Regions from separate parts of the Homo sapiens genome. Here regions 1, 2, 3 and 4 are each reported to be linked to region 5. The links are microRNA targets in miRTarBase. Many come from high-throughput screens and were not tested one by one. Region 5 holds a microRNA gene; each other region holds the end of a gene's coding sequence.
The links. Region 5 holds the annotated microRNA hsa-miR-6773-5p (UUGGGCCCAGGAGUAAACAGGAU, at 1,294-1,316, shown strand). A microRNA usually pairs through its seed, bases 2 to 8, with sites in the 3' UTR of a target mRNA and lowers its output. Matches are read on the target gene's strand: a 7mer-m8 pairs with bases 2 to 8, a 7mer-A1 pairs with bases 2 to 7 and ends in A, and an 8mer does both.

Region 1 (4,117 bases), not on the chromosome of region 5:
CGGTTCTGGAAATAACCTATATGTTTACAAAATTTTGCGGGTGATTCTGATGTGCAATAAAAATTAAAACTGGTCTAGGATAAGGACCGGTGGGGGGCACAAACAAGGGAAGGAGCGAAGGGAACCCTCCCTTTTGTACATGCATGCCATGTTTCTACTCATGTGTGCACACATAGGGGGAAGCATTTTATTCCTTCCCAGTCTACTGTCTTCATAGCCACACAGCTAGCAGCATGAACTCTAAATGCAAAGCTGGCCTGCCTTGCTTTCTGTTGCTTAAATTTCCCCCAGCTTTCCTCTCATGGTAAAATCCCAAACCAAGAAGGTTTCCCCCTCCCCCACCTCTCATCTCACCTTCTGCTACTCCTGAACCTTCCATGACACTCCATTGCTGTGGTCTCCATGGTTACAGACCTTTTTTATCCAGTTATAGATACCTTTCTTTGGGGAAAGGACCTTGTCCTGTTGCTCTGTCTCTCGAGTGCTTAGCTAAGTGTCTGGCACTGAGACAATATCTCCAGAGAGGCTGCTGAGCTGTGTAAAAGAACTAGGCCAGGGAAGGCACTGTGGGTGCTATCCAGCTTTCATTCCACAGCTAAAGAGATCCCTGATAACTCAAATCTGCTTGTAAGCACAGCAAATGGGCCCAGGGCCCTGGCTCTGCCACTGACCAGCCATGTGACCTTAGTAAGCTACCTCATTGAGCCTGTTTTCTCATCTTCTTTATAGGACTATGAGGCTTAAATGAGACAGTACACAACTGCCTGGCACAATGTCTGGCAAATATTAAGTGCTAGATAAATGGCAGCTCTTGCCCCTTCACACTCTGCCAACCCAAGATTAAGGGTCCCAGGGTCCAGCTCCTGGTTTCCTGCATAGGAAGTCCAGCAGTTTGGAATTTCCCTGGTCGCCAGCATCATTAATATAACGAATACTTCCTTTGCTCTTTCAGACAAAGATGATAAGTCAGTTGTAGCATCCATCACCGAGAGTCTGCAGAAGAAATCAAAGCACCTCATGTGAGCTCCAGCCAAGCCCAGGCATCAGGAGGCTGTTATGATGTGGAGTTTCTTGGCCTGTCCTCTGCATGGCCCAGTGTAGGAAGCCCAGTTTGCTCTCTGGTGTTTGTTAATGTAAACATTCAGTGAAGGGATGGGGCAATAAACGTAACTCATCCTTTCCCGTTCCTGAGGGTGATATACAGCAGGGACCAAGGGGATGGATGTGATTGCATGATAGGGAATCCCAGACCTGGACCCCTGAAAGCCTAGTCCAAACCCACCCACAAGGCAGTGACCAGCCTTCTTGTGACTGGGCCTGGTCTTCCCTTCCCCTCCTCCACATCTACATGGCACTTTCCCCCTCCCCTCAGAGCTTGGGGGCAAGTCCTGCTGACTTCATCCTGCTCTCCATCCTGCTCCCTCCCATTTCTTCACACTAGGTAGGTCTGTGTTCAGAGTTCTGAAGTTTGAAAGGATCAAGATCTTCCCTCTTTAGTGTCCAGGGTTCAGAGCTAGAAGGGATTGATCATCCAGCTCACTAAGTTTCAAACTTACGTTTTTCAGTGGAATCCTTCCAAAACAAAACAAAACAAAAAAAAACACAACCTAAGAAGCTACTGGACTTGAAATAAGGATAGGAGGTCTTTGAGCCTGCCTTCTCTCATTATTCCTTCACTACCCCCTTACCAGGAATCTCTGTAAAAACTAATTTGGAAATCACTGACTCATCCAACCACCCCTGAGACTTGAGTCTCCTAAATCACATCCCCACAAATGAGCAACACCTCTACTGATGGCATATCCACCACCACCCAAGGCTTCCCTTTCTACTTCTGGGTTAGGGCATTGTCTGTTAAGTTACAAATGCTCCTGGAGCAGAGTGATGTATTATTCTGCCAGGGCTTTACAACTAATGAATGAATCAGCCAATCTAATCCCATTGCTCCCAGCTGTTCAACTAAGCCCAGAGTCCAGGATGAGGGAGATGCTTGAAGGGAATCTGGATCATTTTGAAGGAAGCAGCAGGTCTCAAGTGGGGAGGGGAGGAGGTGGGCAGCAATAGATGACACTGGGTAACTAAAGGTCACCAAGGGTGCTGGGCACCTGTGCACAGGGGAGTACATCAAGGACAAATTTGGACAGTGGCAAATACCACTCATCCCCCATCCTCCTAAACCACATCCTCACCCACACCAGGGAAGTGAGACACACTCCAACCGGCACAGTGTCACCAGAGCCAGGTAGCCAGCCTGGCACCAAGATGCACTGCCCAGGACTGTGACTAGGCTGTGAGGACAGCCAGAGCCTCTGGCACCATGCCCCCATGCCCTCTCCAAGATAGGCATGTGCCACACAGGCCCACAAGCAGGGCAGCCAATGGCTCTTGATTTTTATTATTTTTCACATGGGCAGCAGAAGATGGAGTTGTCCCATCCTTGCTCCCCTTGCATTGAATGTGCCTTGGGTCTTAAAACCCCGGAGTGTCATTGGAGCCCCCTCCTCTTGCTCCTAGTGTAGGAGGGACAAGGAGGAAAGCACTGTGAGTATGTGTGTTGGAGGGGAGGGGTCCCAGCTCCCTGAGCCAGGCTCAGCACCCCTCAGCAGCTCCCTGAGGCCCTCTCTCTGTGAGACTTTTGACAGACAGCAGGACAGAAACATATAGCAGAGAAAGACATAGGCAGACTAGGAGACAGGCTACACACACACACAGAGAAGCTGGCCCCTTCCTTTGGCATGGTTCACCCTAGCCCTGGGGATAGGATCTAAGGGTAGCGTATGGGACCTGAGCTTTGGGCTTGCCCGAGAGAGAGATGGGGCTACTTGAATTCTTGAGACCCCAAACTCCGAGACCAAAGAAGTTCTCTCTCCTGCCTAACCTGGACCCACACCTCTTCATGTCCCCACCCACCACTTAGAGACTGAGATTGTTCAAGTAACAAGGATAGAAGAGGGAAAAGAAACGGAGGCTCCACTCTCATCCAGTCTTCCCAACTAGGGGCCTGTGAAAGGGGCTCCTGGGTCTGAGTCTTCTCAGCACAGATTCTCCCGTTTCCCTCAACTTTGTGCAGATGAAAAAGGGGAGGAGTGGGTGAACCCAGCACTGCCATTGGTCCTAGGCATAACACATGGAGTCAGACTCTTCCACCTGGTAGGGGAAGTGGGTGGGGGGGTGTCAAGAAGCTGAGCACCATCACCTTCCAGGGGGGTTTTGAAAGTCCTGATAGGGTAGAGGTGGGGAGATGTCTACTTCTGGCTCCAGTCTGATATTAGGCTGGCTCTTTTAGCTCTCAGCATTGTCCTGAACCACGAGTTCTGCTAGGGAGATCCTTTTCCAGCCTCCCCACACGAACTTGCAAATTCCTCAGGCAGTACCTGCTGCCCCAGGCTGGCACTGCAGCCATCCTGATCCAGCTCCTGCAGGTCCCCAGGATCTGGGCCCCAGCCCCAGGAGGAGAGAGGGGTGACCAGACCCTGGCACCTCAGTTGGCCTTGGTCAGTCTGTAGTGTTCCACAGGCTCCCGGCTTTCGACAGCTGACAAGGCGACGAGCATCTGGGCCACATAGTAGGTGGACATGATAAGCGCCCGAGAGTAGGGCACAGGAAAACAGAATTTGTTGAGGGCGATGGTCAGGTCTGAGATGATAAAGAAGAGTGCACCACTGCCAGCTGCCAGCTCTGTCCAGCGCCAGTCTGCCCCGGCCAGCCGCAGCCCTGCCATAGCTCGCCAGCCCATGAAGCCGATAAGGGCCACATAGACCCCCACCAGGTAGGTGAAGGCACCTGAGAGGCATGGGTAGAGGAGGGCATAGCACAGGCCCGACAGCGCTGCCATCACCAGACCTGTCCGAAGAGCCAGTGGCTGCATGCCAAAGGCCGAGGCGTAGAACATGTGGGTCACAGCAAACATCAGCAGACCTGGGGGTAAGAGGGGCAAAGGCAGCTGAGGGCAAGCTTGATGAAGAATGAGTAACAGGGTGGGGGTAGGGATGGATGTGGCGATGGAGTGGAGTGTTTGGGATAACCCAGCAGCTTTGCTTTGGGATAACAGGGGTAGGAAGATCTAAAGTTAAAGACCACCACCCCAGTCCCCTGAAGGACTCTGGAACTGATCACT
Region 2 (4,115 bases), not on the chromosome of region 5:
ACGTGAGCCACCATGCCTGGCCTAAAATCCCCATTTCTTTAAAGTGTTTCAAGTCTATTATTTGCAACCAAGAGCCTAACTTCACACACACAGATTACTGATTTCATCAATTGTGAAGGTTTAAGGGATCTCCTTTGCGATTCCTTCAACTATTCAAGATTCCCCTTGTCGAGGTTGTTACCCTGTTTGAGGGGATGGAAGGGGCAGAATATTGCTTAGGTGTTGCAAGAGGAATCCAACCTTTCCTGGGTCACAACTCTGACGGGAAGCTGTGCCCTCAGTAAGGTTTCCCCAGTCCTGGTGGCAGTGTCTGAGTGGGCACTTCCTTAGATCCCCTGCAGAAATCGTACTCATGAGCTCCTAGACGACACTGATTTCCGTTCTCTCCCAATTCCCTAACATGAGCAGAGTGCCTGGAGGGGATTAAGTGTTCAATACATACAATTGGAAAAACAAGGCACTTTCACAGTCTCTTGTTGATTCTCAAAATTATTTTGGTAGTGTTTTGTTTTCATCATCAGCCTAATTTCACACTTGAGGAAATAAAGTTCAGTGATACTGACTTGTCAGAGATCAAAGAGCTCATCAGTGGTGGAGCTAAAACTCTCCATAAGGATATAATACCCAATAACTCAAATTCCCTCACCCACAAAAATCTTTTCAGTCATCTCCCCTTTATCCTAACCACTGACGTAACTCAGATCTTCACATTCCTTTTCTCTTTTATCCTCAACTTTTAAATTCAGGGTACATGTGTAGGATGTGCAGGTTTTTTACACAGGTAAATGTGTGCCGTGGTGGTTTGCTGCACAGATCATCCCATTACCTAGGTACTAAGCCCAGCATCCCTTATTCTTCCTGATGCTCTCCCTCCCCCCATCCCCATCCCCACTCCCAAGATGCTCCTGTGTGTTGTTCCCCCGCCATGTGTCCATGTGTTCTCATTGTTCAGCACCCACTTATAAGTAAGAACATGCAGTGTTTGATTTTCTGTCCCTGGATTAGTTTGCTGAAGATAATGGCTTCCAGCTCCATCCATGTCCCTGAAGATCACATTTCTAACCTTCCAACGGATCTTCCTGCCCAGGTTTTACCCCCAACCTATCTTCCACACCACCACCAAAGTTAAATTTCCAAAATCTAACTCTGATCACGCCACTCTACTCACAGGCTACTGCATATGAGACAAAGGCCCTAACTCTCATGGTTTTCAAAGTCCTCCATGATCAGGCCTCAGCTTGCTTTTGCAGTCTCATTTCTATCACCAGATTCCACTCATCAATTCTTTTCATCAAAACGCTGGGCTTTCCCCCGGTATTCAACATGCCATTTGTTTCTCTTCCATAATCCATTGTTAGCTTTTTCCCAGCCAGCTCTATAACTAGCTCATACATACAAGGGAATGTATGACAAATTTATGGCTTAAAGAATAATAAAAGAACAATCATGCTCCCACCTAAACATTACCAAACACCCTATAGTGTTCTTTTAAGTCTCTGTGCCTCTGCACATGCTAGAATGTCCTTCCAGGCCTTAGTCTGCATAGTAAACTCATCCTTTGGAAGCTAATTCCATTGACTTCCTCTGGGAAGCCTCCATTGACACCCGTGAGGGACACAATGCTTCCCTTATGCCTCTACTATGGCATTTATAACTATTATATTCGCTTACACATTTGTCTCCCTGGTAGGTTGAAGATGTCAAATATTTGATCTCTGAATCTCTGGTAACCAGTTTGAAGTTCTAGTTACACAGTAAGTGCTCAATACATCAGATGACCACACAACCCAGTTTGCCTGGGAGAGTCCTGGTTTATGTCTGTTGCCCTGGAGTAATTATAAGTGCTTCTTTCACTCATAAAAGCATCCTAACTTAGATGACCAAATCACCCTATCCATAAATGTTGAATTAACAAATGACTTAAAGAATAGAGAAAGACTTTCACTGTCAGAATCTAGGCAGGAAAAGCCAATGTGTGGATTCTGCGGCCACTGTGCCTCCTTCTCCTCCTCCTTCTGACTCTCCTGGAGACAGAGAAGATGAGTTTGCACACACCAGATGCTCAATAACCTTTATTGCACAAGTAAGTTGAAAAATGTTAGCACGTTCCTACTTCAAGAAAACCTGGGCCGGGTGCAGTGGTTCATGCTTGTAATCCCAGCACTTTGAGAGGCCAAGGCAGGAGGATTGCTTGGGCCCAGGAGTTCAAGACCAGCCTAAGCAACATAGTGAGACCCCTATCTCTACAAAATTTTTTTTAAAAACTAAGAAAGAAAATTAGCCAGGCGTGGTGGCCCCACTTTGGGAGGCTGAGGCTGGAGGATCACTTAAGCCCAGGAGGTTGAAGATGCAGTAAGCAGTGTTTCACGCCACTGGACTCCAGACTGTGTGAGAGAGCAAGACCCCATCTCTAAAAAAATTAATAAAAAAAAATAAAATCTGGATGTAAAATGTTAATTTATAGTACAGATCAATGTGGCAGAGATTATTAAATATTACCTACGTTTACTACTTGGTTAAATCTAGCTGGTAGTGAAATGTAAAGAGCTGGATTTACTACTTATAGGAAATAAAAAATGCAGATTCAATACTCCTAAAATGTCAGTGGTGACACGATTTTTAAAAAATTAAATAGATGCACTGTTTTTAAAAAAACCTCTTCTCGGCCAGGCACGGTGGCTCACAGCTGTAATCCCAGCACTTTGGGAGGCCAAGGCGGGTGGATCACGAGGTCAGGAGATCAAGACCATCCTGGCTAACACAGTGAAACCCCATCTCTACTAAAAATACAAAAAAAAAAATTAGCCAGGCATGGTGGCGGACGCCTGTAGTCCCAGCTACTTGGGAGGCTGAGGCAGGAGAATGGTGTGAACCCGGGAGGTGGAGCTTGCAGTGAGCTGACATCACGCCACTGCACTCCAGCCTGGGCCACAGAACAAGACTCCGTCTCAAAAAAATAAAAATAAAAACAAAAAACCTCTTCTCAGTATGTATGTAGGTACATACATACACCAGTTAGGGTTGCCCTTGTTCTTAAGGAAAGATAATCTCCTTGAGTTTCGTATCATAAATACAAGTTTTATTTAAACTTTTTTGTAATTCAAGTAAAAAAAAAGCTGTTTTTTAACTACTGTTACATAAAAAGTGGAAAGTGAGGCAATCCATCTTTTCGGCAATAATCTTCTCTTCTTATAATAATGCCATCTTCTTTGAAAGTCCAGATAATTCCAGGCCAGGCACGGTGGCTCACGTCTGTAATCATAGCACTTTGGGAGGCTGAGGTGGGCAGATCACAAGGTCAGGAGTTCGAGACCAGCCTGACCAACATGGTGAAACCCCATCTCTACTAAAAATACAAAAATTAGCTGCGTGTGGTGGCGTGTGCCTGTAATCCCAGCTACTCAGGAGGCTGAGGCAGGAGAATTGCTTGAACCTGGGAGGCGGAGGTTGCAGTGAGCTGAGATAGTGCCACTGGATTCCAGCCTGGGTGACAGAGTGAGACTCTGTCTCAAAAAAAAAAAAAAAAAAAAAAGTCCAGATAATTCCTTGTAAATAAGGTTTTTAATAAATTACAAATATGTAATAGGTTTTTATCCATCTTCTTCCTAACTACTCAATGCATTGTTGCATAGCAACAGTTTTTTTCTGCTTCTTCTTTGTTGGAAGTCTGAGAGTCTGAAATCTGCATTGGCTTGGTTGAGCTTGGGAATTTTTCTGGTACCAGGGGTGCAAATATCCATTGTAGAAGTCAGTAGCTGTTAGTGATTTCTTGAGCATCACTGATCGAACACCAATCCAACCATCCTAAAGGGCAAAATACAAATAGTGAATAGGCAGGGGTGGCAAAACTAAAAAGCCAAGTAAATATTAGTTTATAAAATTTTTATCATGGAAACAAACAAACCAACAAATCTTTACTAAATGCCTAGCTGCAAACAGCACTACACTAAGTAACATGTAGAATTCCTTGACTCTATTAGGTTGGTGCAAAAGTCATTGCGGTTTTTGACACTGAAATTAAAAGCTTATTACCAAGGAGCGATAACAAATGTATAGATCTGTATAAATATTTAAATACAAAGGGAGCAGAATAAAAGGTATGTAACATGAAATAC
Region 3 (4,117 bases), not on the chromosome of region 5:
CAATATTGTGAAACCCCGTCTCTAGTAAAAATACAAAAATTAGCCAGGCATGGTGGCACGTGCTTGTAGTCTCAGCTACTTGGGAGACTGAGGCAGGAGAATCACTTGAACCGGGGAGGTGGAGATTGCAGTGAACTGAGATTGCGCCACTGCATTCCAGCCTCGGCGACAGAGTGAGACTCTGTCTCAAAATAAATAAACAAAAAATAAATAATTAAAAAAAGAATAAAATACAAATCTATTTAAAGAATAGATCTTTTTATGTAAAGATTAGTAGTGTAAAAAAAATTGGTATAAGTACCGTAGATGGTTTGACATTAGGAATTAGAGATTAGCATTTGAAAGATACTGACATGAGTTACAAGTATAATACCATATACATAGCGCTTTTAGCTCCAGTTTTTTTTTTTTTTTTTAAAGAGGTGGGGTGGGGATGGAGTAGGAAGAATGTGCTTTTAATAGTTCTAATAGAAAGTAAATTTTACGAACTCTATTAAGAAAAGAAGGATGATCTGCTGTGTTGCTGAATGTGATATTTTTGGCAGCATGTACTGCTGATATGCAGCATTCTGGTAAATGACAATTATATACCTGAGTCTACTGTTGTAGGCCAGTTTATTTTGGTTTTATATAGGTAATAATCTAAAGTGAATTGAGGAGACATTGTAATTCATTCATTCATTCTTTTTTTTTTCTTTTTAGTGCTGTAATTACAACAATTAACCATGATGAAGTTTGGTTTAAGAGGCCTGATGGAAGCAAATCTAAGCTTTACATTTCACAGCTACAGAAAGGAAAATATTCAATTAAACATTCATAATCATGATTTAAGTGTTATCTAAATTTACCTTATTAGTGTTACCAAATGTAAGTGCCATGAGAGTAAAAAAATGTATTCAATAACTTAATATTCTCACTGAATCATGAGAGAATGTGTATTTGTAGGTAGTACTCTAAATAGATCTCATTGATATGTTATTAAAAGAAACAGTAATAAAAATTTTATCACGATCCTTACGTTGATTTGCCTCTTAGGTCCGATGACCAATAGGTATTCTGTATATGGTAGGGGTTTCTTTCTAAACATTTTTCTTTGGTTTTAAAAAAAGTTATGCAAATTTGTCTTATCTTTAGTAAACTATGACTACATTTATCTGCAATTTTTAAAATTTTCCATATCTTTGTCATTCATTGTGTGTTTGTAAATAAGGCCGATAGAATGTTTCCTATAAATGGTTTGTACTAGTACATTAGTGTTAAACCAGAACTGAAATTTAAACATATATATATATGAGGATGTATATATGGCATCATCAGCTTATTTAGAACTGATGGCCATACCTTACAATCTTGTTTTACCCAAAATTAAGCTATTGGGGTTGAAAGCTAAAAGGAGCACTTTTGTAGAATAGCAACTTTTCTTTTCCTCTTTCTTGATTGTATGGTGGGGTGGTGACCTATTTTTACAAATTATACCTAATGAGTAAAATTAGTGTAAAGTGATAACATGCTTCTACCTGTATTTCTAGTGACCCTTTAGCGGCAGGTATTTATACCTGGTATTTATGATGCAGTATATAAGTGGTGAACAATAACTGACAGTATTGTGCTTGCTGTACATGTCTGGTCTTTTGAAACAGATTTTAGTAAGCATTTTCCAGAGGTAAAACTGTGTCCTTATTCTAATTTTATTCCTAGGGCAAAGTAGACAGGGATTATTTCCTTGAATCTATTTCCAAATTAATATTTTTTTCTTTGGTATTTCTACACTTTAAGGCCATTTGGTGCAATTTAGAAAGTGTTGGCCTCCCTTCCGCTAGCCACATTCAAAATTAACTTCCAAAACCTCAGGAACAGTACAAAGAATTGAAACCCTCAATATGGCAGCACAGCCGGCTGTAGTGTATATTTAGGGTACACCAAATCAGGTATTCCTGGTGGTCTTGTGCACTTTAATTTCTGTTACAATGAGTTAAGAGGATGAGGAAGAAATCTACTTATTAACACTTACTGCAGAAATGTCTGCATTATTCCGTTTGTTTTCTTATTATTTTACCTCTCCAAACATCTTCCTGTGCAGATCACTACTTCATAGTTGCCAAATTTTAAAACACTTAACTGCTGAAATTCAGTGTCAGCAAAGTGATATTACGTTGTTCTGTTTCTAATTAACCTTAGCAAATGTACATAATGTCAAAACCCAATAGTATTTGACAGTACTTATGTATACAATGTTTGATAAGCATTTTTAATAAGATTTGTATTTTTAAATTTAGTATATAATAAAAAGATGTGTTTCAGTGTGATTTGTAGTGTCTTGGATTACTTATGTGTATTTAGTTCTTTTTATAACCTATCCACTTGTAAGAAAGATTTGAATTGGTTTACGTTAATAGATATGGAGTAGGCTGGGTGCAGTGGCTCATACCTGTAACCTCAGCACTTTCTGGGGTATATTTAGATGTTCAAGACAGCTAAGTTATACTTAATTTTAAAATATATGCATATGTGTTGTACTTTGATTAAAAGGTACTGTATAAGTTAATGAAATTCTAAATAGAAAATCTTTATTTTTTTATTTTTATTTTTTGAGATGGAGTCTTGCTCTGTCACCCAGGCTGGAGTGCAGTGGCACGATCTTGGCTCACTGCAACATCTGCCTCCCAGGCTCAAGTGATTCTCCTGCCTCAGCCTCCTGAGTAGCTGGGATTACAGGTGTGCACCATCACACCTGGCTAATTTGTATATTTTTAGTAGAGACAGGTTTTTGCCATGTTGGCCAGGCTGGTCTCAAACTCCTGACCTCAGGTGATCCGCACACCTTGGCCTCCCAAAGTGCTGGGATTATAGGCATGAGCCATCACACCTGGCCTAGGAAATCTTTATTTTAAAACTATGATTTAGTACATTTATTTTCAAAACTTTAGTATTTATATCTTATGTAGTATTCTACCATAATATTAAGATTCATAAAAGCATATGCTTATCTATGACTAAAATGCTATAAAATATATTGTCTTATTGGCAGTTTGCCATTAGTTGTCTGGTCATAAAGTTTAATTTAGGAAAATTATTAGAAACTCCAAAATGTGATGTAGTGGCTGCTGCTGCTCCTGTGTTTATGATCAGCTTCTGTCTCAGGATCATTTCTTGACCTTTATTGTCACAGCTCCTAGTTTTTCATGTTCAATCCATCCCCTCCTTGCTGTTTCCCATTTTTTAAAAAGAGATACTATCTAAGTATCACTAATGCAATTCTTCAACTAATAATTATTGGCAAATAGTAATGGCACACTCCTGATTTGTCCCCTTTTTCACTGTTCATATTGGTGGGCTGGACACAGTACTTTTTTGCAGCCTTCTTCATGTAAAAGTTGTTCTGATGTATGCATTACTTGGAACACCAGTTGCAGAACCATGTATGCCTCATTAATAATTATTTAAAAAGAAGAAAAACTTCCAAAGATTCAGGAACAGTAGAAAGAATTGAACCTTTAATATGGCAGCACAACTGGCTGTATATGTGTGTGTGTATATATATATATATATATATATATATATATATATATATATATAACATTTTTTTTCCCATGACATAGCCTCAGGAGGTCCTGAGGACATGTGCCCCATATTTAGGGTACAACCAAATCACATATTTTTGATGGTCTTGTGCACTTTAATTTCTGTTATGATAAGAGTTAAGAAGATGAGGAAAAAATCTACTTAACACCTAGAGGAGAAGTTATCTGTTTTTTCTTTTTGTTTTTGGACCCAGTAAATCCAGTACAATAAAACTGAACTAAAATGAATTTCTCTTATAAGAAAATGGATATAGGATAGGCCGGGCGTGGTGTCTTAACGCCTGTAATCCCAGCACTTTGGGAGGCTGAGGCGGGCAGATCACAAGGTCAAGAGATTGAGACCATCCTGGCCAACATGGTGAAACCCTGTCTCTATTAAAAATACAAAAATTACCTGGGTGTGGTGGCGCGCACCTGTAGTTCCAGCTACTTGGGAAGCTGAGGCAGGAGAATCGCTTGAACCTGGGAGGCGGAGGTTGCAGTGAGCTGAGATCATGCCACTGCATTCCAGTATTCCAGTCTGGTGACAGAGTGAG
Region 4 (4,117 bases), not on the chromosome of region 5:
TAGACCCGTTTCTCCTCTTGCACATGAGCAAGTCCCACAGCCCAGCCACCCACCGCTGAAATGCCATAAGGCCAGGAAGGGGAGGGGGCATCGTTTTCCACCCCAGAACGTGGCTTCTCTGATGCTCAGATGTGCAGCCTTGACGCCCCGCCTCCCAGCTGCACCTCACCAGCAGGGTCTCTTGCACCCAACTCCCTCCTCCACCCACAGCCTGCAGCCTGGCTTCACCAGGAACTCCAGGAGCCTTCAAGGCAGGTCCAAGGAGGTGGCTGCTGGGCAGGGAGCAAGCCCAGGCCATCACTGAGGGGGGCCTTGGAGGCAGCAATTAGCACCCAGCTCATTAAACTTGCAGCAGCTCCTCTGCACCTGATCCCTCCACCTGGGTCTGGAATTCTGCTGTTTTCCATTTTCCCAGGTAACCTTATGCAGACAGCAGGCAAAGAAGCCAGATAAAGTGAGCCGAACTGCAATGGGACTGCTTCATGGGCCCCCAGGGTCTCCTTCTAAAACAAAGGACTCAAGCGTTGCACTGCTCCTCAGCACAGCCTTAGACATCTGCCTTCAGACAGCAAGGTGTTCCAGAACCACAGGTACACAGGGGCCTGCCTGTCCTAGCAGAGTGCCCAAAGGGTGACACGGCTCCCTGCCTCTCTGCTGTGCCTGGCCTCACCTGACAGCTCGGCTGTGCTTCCTGCTGCAGTCAGCATTTGGCCTCCAGCTCCAACCCTACCCCAGCTGTCCAACCCACAGCCAGCCTTGGGGGAGGACCAGGTGTCAAGCCAGACCAGCAGGCTCCAGCCAGGAATCCTTTAGCAATAAAGGGCTGGAGGATGTCCACTTGGGGGCCTCAATGCTGATATCTTCCACGTGAGGGGGCTGTCACCATGCAATCCTGTCCCCTCCCAAGGTATCACCTCCAGATGCTCTTAGGACCCAGGGTAGACCCTCTCCAGGTACTCTCTCTGATCCCCTCACCCTGGAGGAGGAAAACCTTACCCAAGGACCAGCCCGGCACACAACCCTTGTCTGAACTCCTGCCGCATCTCTAAAACACCCTGCATTTTTGCATTCTACCCTGTAATACAGCATTTTGATGTTCACATAACCATGCCCCCAAAAATCTGCAGATGCAACTGACAACTCAGGGCAATGCCACAAGTTTCTCCTGAAGCTTCATCTGTAGACCCAACAGAGCCCCAGGAACTCCCAGGAAAGGCAGAGGTACCTCACTTTGAGAGGCACAGAACTGAGTAAGACTCCACAGCAAATCTGGGAGTCGGCAGGGCCACTGACCAAGAAGGAAGGAGGTGTGGCCTACAGGCCATAGTCAGGACCTTTCCTTTCTCACCACTGACCATGTCACCCCACTGCACTGCCCACCCTAATCTGCAGGGAAAACAGCTAACCAGACATGACAGGACTGGATCCAATGCCTAACTTCAAACCCACCAGTCTCTCCTACAAAGTCAAAAGCGTACTTGCCCTGAAGAGCAGTGACACAAACTCGGGGCCTTTTTGTGATTTGGGGGTAGGGCCTGCCCTACCGTATCCGTTGCCTCTGGATAAGGGCATGCCTAGCGAGGGCAGCACACTCCTAGCCCAGCACCCTCCTGCCTCAACCTCCCTCCACCCTCTACCCACCTGGAAAGGCTGTGGAACCCAAGGTGACCCTGAAAAGGTGGTCCTTCTGGCAGGATTGCTGATGGGGCCTGCCCTGCCCAGGCCCAGAGCTAGCCCTCTCTGCCAGGCAGGCACTGTTTAAAACCTGCAGACATCCTCGACAGACATTCTCTAAGACCTTGCCCACTCCAGTAATCCACAAGATTGAGGGCAGACAGGAAAGGAAAGGGTATCACTCAGACAGACTTGTCTTTCCCTGGAAGGCCAGCTGTACGGCTTCCATTCACTCCTGGAGCTGACCTGCCTCCCTCTTTGTCCTTTTCTGGCTGTGCTTAAGAGCCTAGCTTCCCTGGCAGCCTAAGGTCAGGGTCTGTGACTGGGATGCGTGCGGAGAAGGGGAGGAAGGCCGGTGACAGGCGGCTAAGGCAGCAGCAACGGGGGAGATATGAGAGCGGACAGAGGACCCAGGGAGAGGCCGGGCCCTCAGCTCACTGCCCCGCGGCCCCAGGGGCCACCTGTGCCCTGACACCACCTGACCCTCAGCAAACTTCCGCCCAGTGGCTTCCTGCCAGAAATCTAGCCAGCCGTGCACCCGCCTCCCTTACAAACAATCCTTGCCCAAAGGTTAGCAATGTGGCTGCCGTCACCTACGCCCAAGTCAACAGTTGACGCTTTAGTACGGGCCAGGTGGGCATGCGCCCCGTGAGCATCACCGAGAAAGTCTCACAAAAGCCCCTGGGGAGCGGGGGGAGGGCTCAGTCACGTGCCCCAGGCCGGTGCCCCACCCCCGCCCCCGCCGCCCCCCCGCCCTGGGGTTTCTGGTCCCTCCGGGAATGTTCCCAGAAGCGCCAGCCCAGCCCAGCCCGGGGTACCAAGGCGCCCAGGCCCGAGCGGGTAACCATGGCAACCCCAGGACGCCGGCTCCCGGCGGCCCCGCCATTCCTCCGCCCCGGGAGGCGCCCGGCAGACCCCCGACCCCCAGCGGGTCCTTTCCCCTGGGGCCGCCGGGGCGGGGCGGGGCAGGGCAGGGCGAGGAGCGCATGCGCGGCGGGGCCGGCCCCTCTCCCCGACTGGATACTCACAGACTGCCCCCAGCACCCCAGACAGGCGACACAGCCAGCGGTACCACCACGTCATGCCCTCTTCCTGCGCGGGCGGCGCAGAGCTGGCGGACGCCCCGGGCGCCCCACCTGAGCTGCTCATGGTGCCACCGTCAGGCGCAGCTCACAGCCCTCACAAAGGGCTCGGTAGCCGGCCGCGTCCGAGCCGGCGCGCTGCCTTGTGGGAGAGGGAGCATATTAGCATAGGGGGCGGGGCTTTCAGGCTGCGGCGAGGCGCGCCCGAAGGGAGGCGGGTGCTCATTAACATAGTGAGCGGGACCCTCATGCCGCGACTAGGGGCGTTTGAGGGGAGGTAGGTGCTCATTATTGTAGGGGGCGGGACCCGCAGGCTGCGGCGAGGAGCTGGGGGTGGGGAGCTCGTTAGCATACGGGGCGGGGCTCGCAGGCATCGGAGAGGTGTGCCCGAGGGGGGCGGGCGTCATTAGCGTAGGGGGCGGGGGCTCGCAGTTTGCGGCGACTTGCTCCCAAAGGAGGCGGGCGCTTATTAGCATAGGGGGCGGGGCCTGGAGGCGCGCAGACACCTTAGCGGTCAGAGCCTCACACCAGGACACACGGGTGGGGCTTCGCAGGGAGCTGGCTAATGCGCCATCCTCGGAGTGGAATCCTGATTGGATTTTCTTCCTGGATAGGAAGAAGATAACTAGGGACGTCCAGCGGCTTGCTCAGATCAAGATAGAGCCAACCGCGGCCAGCGAATCCCTGCCTTGCCATGGGATGGGTTTTCAAGCCAGGTCTGGACAGCTTATAAGAAAAAAACGCCGGTCAGCCTGCATGTTTTATTTATTGGTACCCGAGGAAATGGGGGCTGCTTTTCCAGAGTCCCCACCTCCAACCCCCTAGCCTTTTGGACATTGGAGAAGACTCTAAAGTAGATACCTAAGATTGGAAAAAGTTCGAATTGGAAAGCACTGAGACCAGGGGTCAACCCTCCAGGGCTGGCCAGACACGGAACAAATGTTCAATGACCCTCAGGTTCCTTCCTTTCCCTTCCAGGACTGAGGGTCCTGCATCTCCGGTACCCATGATTGGAGGGTCCAGTACTGGCCCCGCAGGCTGGCCTGAGCCTTCAGGAAGCCCTCGCTGAACTCCATCTCAGCCTGGCTGCTCTCTGACTCCCAGTAGAGCACCTGCTGCCCATGGAACGCTGTGGTCCTCAAGCTGTGGGTGTCCCGGATCTGAGAGAAAAGGGGCAGCCCAGAAGGACCGGCCACAAGTAATAATTAGCACTCACGGAAGCCTTCGTGTGCAAGGGCTCACAGATTCCGGATCACATTTAATGCTTACAAAGCCCTACTAGGAATACGCCATTACTCTACCCAGAAAACCGAGGTCCAGGGACGTTACATCACTTCCCCAAGGACACACAGTCAGGGTGC
Region 5 (4,104 bases):
GTTGTAAAGTGTCACAGAATTGGCAGGGAGGGTTCGTGGGTCACTGATTAGTGTTTATACTTCTCCAGCAAGGATGGAGGCTGGGGGAGGGCTGGGCAGCCTCAGGAGTGCCACCCCCTCTATGAGCAAACAGCTCAGTGCCAGCCGGTCAATAGGATGTGGGTCAAAGCTCATGCTGCCCCTGATGTCCAAGTGTGGAGCTCTGTCCTTGGAGTTTCTCTGCCCCTCGGTTGGTCAGACCTGGAGGCGGGGCTGCCATTGACCATGAGCCTTCTGGGCCTCAGGCAGGCCTGGGCCTCCCCCACCTGTCTGAGGGTGGTACCCGGTCAAAGACAGGTTTAACCTGCTTTGCCCCGCCCCTTCCCACCTGCTTGTCCCACTCCAGGTGTTTGCTCTGGCCCCACTCCAAACTCCTGGAGTGTGTGTGTTGAGGGCTTCGGTTATATGTGATTGCCCTCATTTGGCCTGGAGGAGGTGACAGTGGACTGGAACAGGGTTGGGGGGTGAGGGGAAGGGACATAGGGCTAGGCTCAACAGGCGTGGCCTCTTATTCCCAGGCAGGATAGGGCTGAACATCTGGCTGAACCAGCTTTGCAGCCTGCCTCCTTCCTCCTACCCTCACTTCCTGCCTGCCCAGCTGTGAATCTGTGTGTTTCTCTCTCCCCATTCCCTATCCCCAGTTCTCACAGCTGGTGAACGGGGATGTGGCTTTGCTGGGCGGGGGCCCCTACATGCTCTGCACTGATGGGCAGCAGCTATTGCGACAGGTCCTGCACCCCGAGGCCTCCAGGAAGGTATGCTCCTGAAGGAAAACCGGGTGGGGTGGGGTGGTCAGTAAGGTTCCCAGAACCCCTCTTGTCCTGAGGGTGGGCAGGGCGCTCATCCTCAATCCTATGTGCCCCCAGAACCTGGTGCTCCCCGACATGTTCTTCTCCTTCTATGACCTCCGAAGAGAATTCCATATGCAGCATCCAAGCACCTGCCCTGCCAGGGACCTCACTGTGGCCACCATGGCACAGGGTATCTGTGACCCAGCAGGGTTAGGGTGGAGAAGCCACTGTGGGTACATGTGTCTGAGTATGTGCATGCTGTGGGTGGGTAATATGGACACATACAAGACTGCGTTATCTGCTAAGTCCCTGAGTGTACTGTGTCTTCGTGTCTGTGCTAGGATGAGTTTGGAATGTGGGTATGTGTCTGTCTATGTCTGGACTGGGAATCTGTATGTGCACACATGAACTGGGCCAAAACAAATGTGTATGCTGGTCTCCAGCATGTGTCTATGGAGGGGAGTTGGGCCCAGGAGTAAACAGGATTAGTGCTTATGCTAAGATGTCTTCACTGTCACTTCTCTGCCCATAGGTTTAGGACTGGAGACAGATGCCACAGAGGATGACTTTGGGGTCTGGGAAGTCAAGACAATGGTAGCTGTTATCCTCCATCTACTCAAAGAGCCCAGCAGTAAGGTTTCCCTCACTGCCTGTCACCTGTTCTCAGGGATGACAAATGCCTATTGCTCCTCCCCACTGTGACCTTCTCTAAGAGACCACGGGGGAATCCTCTTTGTCATTTCTTTTTTTTTTTTTTTTTTGAGACAGTCTCCCTCTGTAGCCTAGGCTAGAGTGCAGTGGCACAATCTCAGCTCACTGCAACCTCCACTTTCCGGGTTCAAGCGATTCTCCTGTCTAAGCCTCCAGAGTAGCTGGGATTATAGGCGCCTGCCACCATGCCCACCTAATTTTTGTATTTTTAGTAGAGATGGGGTTTCACCATGTTGGCCAGGCTGGTCTGGAACTCCTGACCTCAAATGATCCACCCACCTTGGCCTCCCAAAGTGCTGGGATTATAGGCGTGAGCCACTGTGCTCGGCCTGTCATTTCTTCATCTCTCTCAATTGTCCACTTTTTGCAGAACTTGGTGGGGACACCCCTCTCCACCAGACCCTGCTGACCCCCAGGCCATCTTTTCTCAGGTCAATTGTTTTCGAAGCCCGAGGTGATAAAGCAGAAATACGAGACGGGGCCTTGGTGAGTGTGGGAGCAGGGGCTGGGGGTGACAACAGCTGAATAGCTCTGACAGCACTGTGCCCTGCCCCTACAGCAGCAAGGCTGATGTGGTGGACAGTGAGACTGTGGTACGGGCTCGTGGGTTGCCGTGGCAGTCATCAGACCAGGACGTGGCTCGCTTCTTCAAAGGGCTCAACGTGGCCAGGTGGGTGTGGCAGGGTGGGTGGGCCCAATTGGACAGGCCTACCCAGGAGGCACTAACAGCACTGGCTCCACAGGGGTGGTGTAGCACTCTGCCTCAACGCCCAGGGCCGCAGAAATGGCGAGGCCCTCATCCGCTTTGTGGACAGCGAGCAGCGGGACCTAGCGCTGCAGAGACACAAGCACCACATGGGCGTCCGCTATATTGAGGTGGGGCTTTGGGCTGGGAGCGGAGCAGGGCCAATCTGAGTCAGGCCTGAGACCCATGGGCTGCTGCTCTCTGTACCCACAGGTGTATAAAGCGACAGGGGAGGAGTTTGTAAAGATTGCAGGGGGTGAGTATACTGCAAACAGGGCCTGGCTCCCCTGGTTCTTGATCCATTTCACTTCCCCACCACCCCTTGCCTGCCTGCTCCCCTGCATGGGTGAGTGTCTGGAGGAGCATGAGTGAAGTCAGCAGGCGACTCTCATACACAGGCACATCACTAGAGGTGGCTCGTTTCTTGTCACGGGAAGACCAAGTGATCCTGCGGCTGCGGGGACTGCCCTTCTCGGCTGGGCCAACGGACGTGCTTGGCTTCCTGGGGCCAGAGTGCCCAGTGACTGGGGGTACCGAGGGGCTGCTCTTTGTGCGCCATCCTGATGGCCGGCCGACTGGTGATGCCTTCGCCCTCTTTGCTTGTGAGGAGCTGGCACAGGCTGCACTGCGCAGGCACAAGGGCATGCTGGGTAAGCGATACATTGAACTCTTCCGGAGCACTGCAGCCGAAGTGCAGCAGGTGAGCGCCCAGGGCTCCCCACCCCCAGATGTACTGTTACTCCAGGGCGGCCCTCTGTGTCCCTGCCCTACTTGGCATGACCAGCCTGTTGCTGCCTTCCTTACTAGGTCTTGAACCGCTATGCATCCGGCCCACTCCTTCCTACACTGACTGCCCCACTGCTGCCCATCCCCTTCCCACTGGCACCTGGGACTGGGAGGGACTGTGTACGCCTCCGAGGCCTGCCCTACACGGCCACCATTGAAGACATCCTGAGCTTTCTGGGGGAGGCAGCAGCTGACATTCGGCCCCACGGTGTACACATGGTGCTCAACCAGCAGGTGAAGCCACTGCTTGGTAGGGGGAACACATAAATAGGAAGGGGTGTGTGTTAGGGGTAAGGCACTCTTACACATGACAAACTGCTCACAAGATGGTGTGCACAGGGCCGGCCATCGGGCGATGCCTTCATTCAGATGACATCAGCAGAGCGAGCCCTAGCTGCTGCTCAGCGTTGCCATAAGAAGGTGATGAAGGAGCGCTACGTGGAGGTGGTCCCCTGTTCCACAGAGGAGATGAGCCGAGTGCTGATGGGGGGCACCTTGGGCCGCAGTGGCATGTCCCCTCCACCCTGCAAGCTGCCCTGTGAGTGCCCTAGGGGCTAGGGGAGGAGGAGGCCTGTGGTAGCCAGGCTGTTGTAAGCCCCTACCTTCTATAGCGGGGACTCCTTTCTGGCTACCCCACCCAGGGCAGTGCTGGGCTCCGTGCACATGCACTTTCTACTTCCGTCTCTAGGCCTCTCACCACCTACCTACACCACCTTCCAAGCCACCCCAACGCTCATTCCCACGGAGACGGCAGCTCTATACCCCTCTTCAGCACTGCTCCCAGCTGCCAGGGTGCCTGCTGCCCCCACCCCTGTTGCCTACTATCCAGGGCCAGCCACTCAACTCTACCTGAACTACACAGCCTACTACCCAAGGTACCCTGCAGCTAAGAGAATATCACAGTCCCACTCCCTGTCCCAATCTGGGGAAAGGTCACGATCCCCTTTCTGGACCAGATAACTCCTCCCTTGAGATGACAAGGGAGTAAGGTGGCAGCTGGCTAATGCCATCTACAAAACAGATCGAAAATGA

Region 1: miRTarBase lists TMEM86A as a target of hsa-miR-6773-5p. Seed matches in the 3' UTR shown: 7mer-m8 at 3,435-3,441.
Region 2: the mRNA of MTFMT is a reported target of hsa-miR-6773-5p. Seed matches in the 3' UTR shown: 8mer at 2,192-2,199.
Region 3: miRTarBase lists BRMS1L as a target of hsa-miR-6773-5p. The part of its 3' UTR that is shown has no 7-base or 8-base seed match.
Region 4: miRTarBase lists ADAMTS13 as a target of hsa-miR-6773-5p. The part of its 3' UTR that is shown has no 7-base or 8-base seed match.

What each region holds. Positions count from the first base shown.
Region 1 is chr11:18,701,374-18,705,490 of GRCh38, reverse strand. It overlaps TMEM86A (transmembrane protein 86A), which reads right to left. Exons shown (of 3, transcript NM_153347.3): 3 at 706-3,918. The coding sequence ends at 3,482. IGSF22 (immunoglobulin superfamily member 22) reads left to right here. Exons shown (of 23, transcript NM_173588.4): 23 at 953-1,179. The coding sequence ends at 1,023. Among named protein-coding and RNA genes, the nearest start is that of IGSF22-AS1, 3.0 kb to the left of the region's middle.
Region 2 is chr15:64,999,453-65,003,567 of GRCh38, forward strand. It overlaps MTFMT (mitochondrial methionyl-tRNA formyltransferase), which reads right to left. Exons shown (of 9, transcript NM_139242.4): 9 at 2,060-3,804. The coding sequence ends at 3,610. Among named protein-coding and RNA genes, the nearest start is that of SPG21, 12 kb to the left of the region's middle.
Region 3 is chr14:35,869,658-35,873,774 of GRCh38, forward strand. BRMS1L (BRMS1 like transcriptional repressor) reads left to right here. Exons shown (of 10, transcript NM_032352.4): 10 at 703-2,306. The coding sequence ends at 820. Among named protein-coding and RNA genes, the nearest start is that of BRMS1L, 45 kb to the left of the region's middle.
Region 4 is chr9:133,458,773-133,462,889 of GRCh38, reverse strand. It overlaps ADAMTS13 (ADAM metallopeptidase with thrombospondin type 1 motif 13), which reads right to left. Exons shown (of 29, transcript NM_139027.6): 29 at 3,504-3,916. The coding sequence ends at 3,710. CACFD1 (calcium channel flower domain containing 1) reads right to left here and starts at 2,912. Exons shown (of 5, transcript NM_017586.5): 1 at 2,703-2,912. The coding sequence starts at 2,823. RefSeq lists an enhancer at 1-454 and silencers at 2,397-2,696, 2,987-3,086, 3,097-3,316.
Region 5 is chr16:68,230,684-68,234,787 of GRCh38, reverse strand. It overlaps MIR6773 (microRNA 6773), which reads left to right and starts at 1,289; the gene lies at 1,289-1,362. ESRP2 (epithelial splicing regulatory protein 2) reads left to right here. Exons shown (of 15, transcript NM_024939.3): 3 at 681-794; 4 at 906-1,020; 5 at 1,363-1,461; 6 at 1,973-2,027; 7 at 2,101-2,211; 8 at 2,285-2,417; 9 at 2,500-2,542; 10 at 2,685-2,986; 11 at 3,094-3,306; 12 at 3,412-3,610; 13 at 3,761-3,947.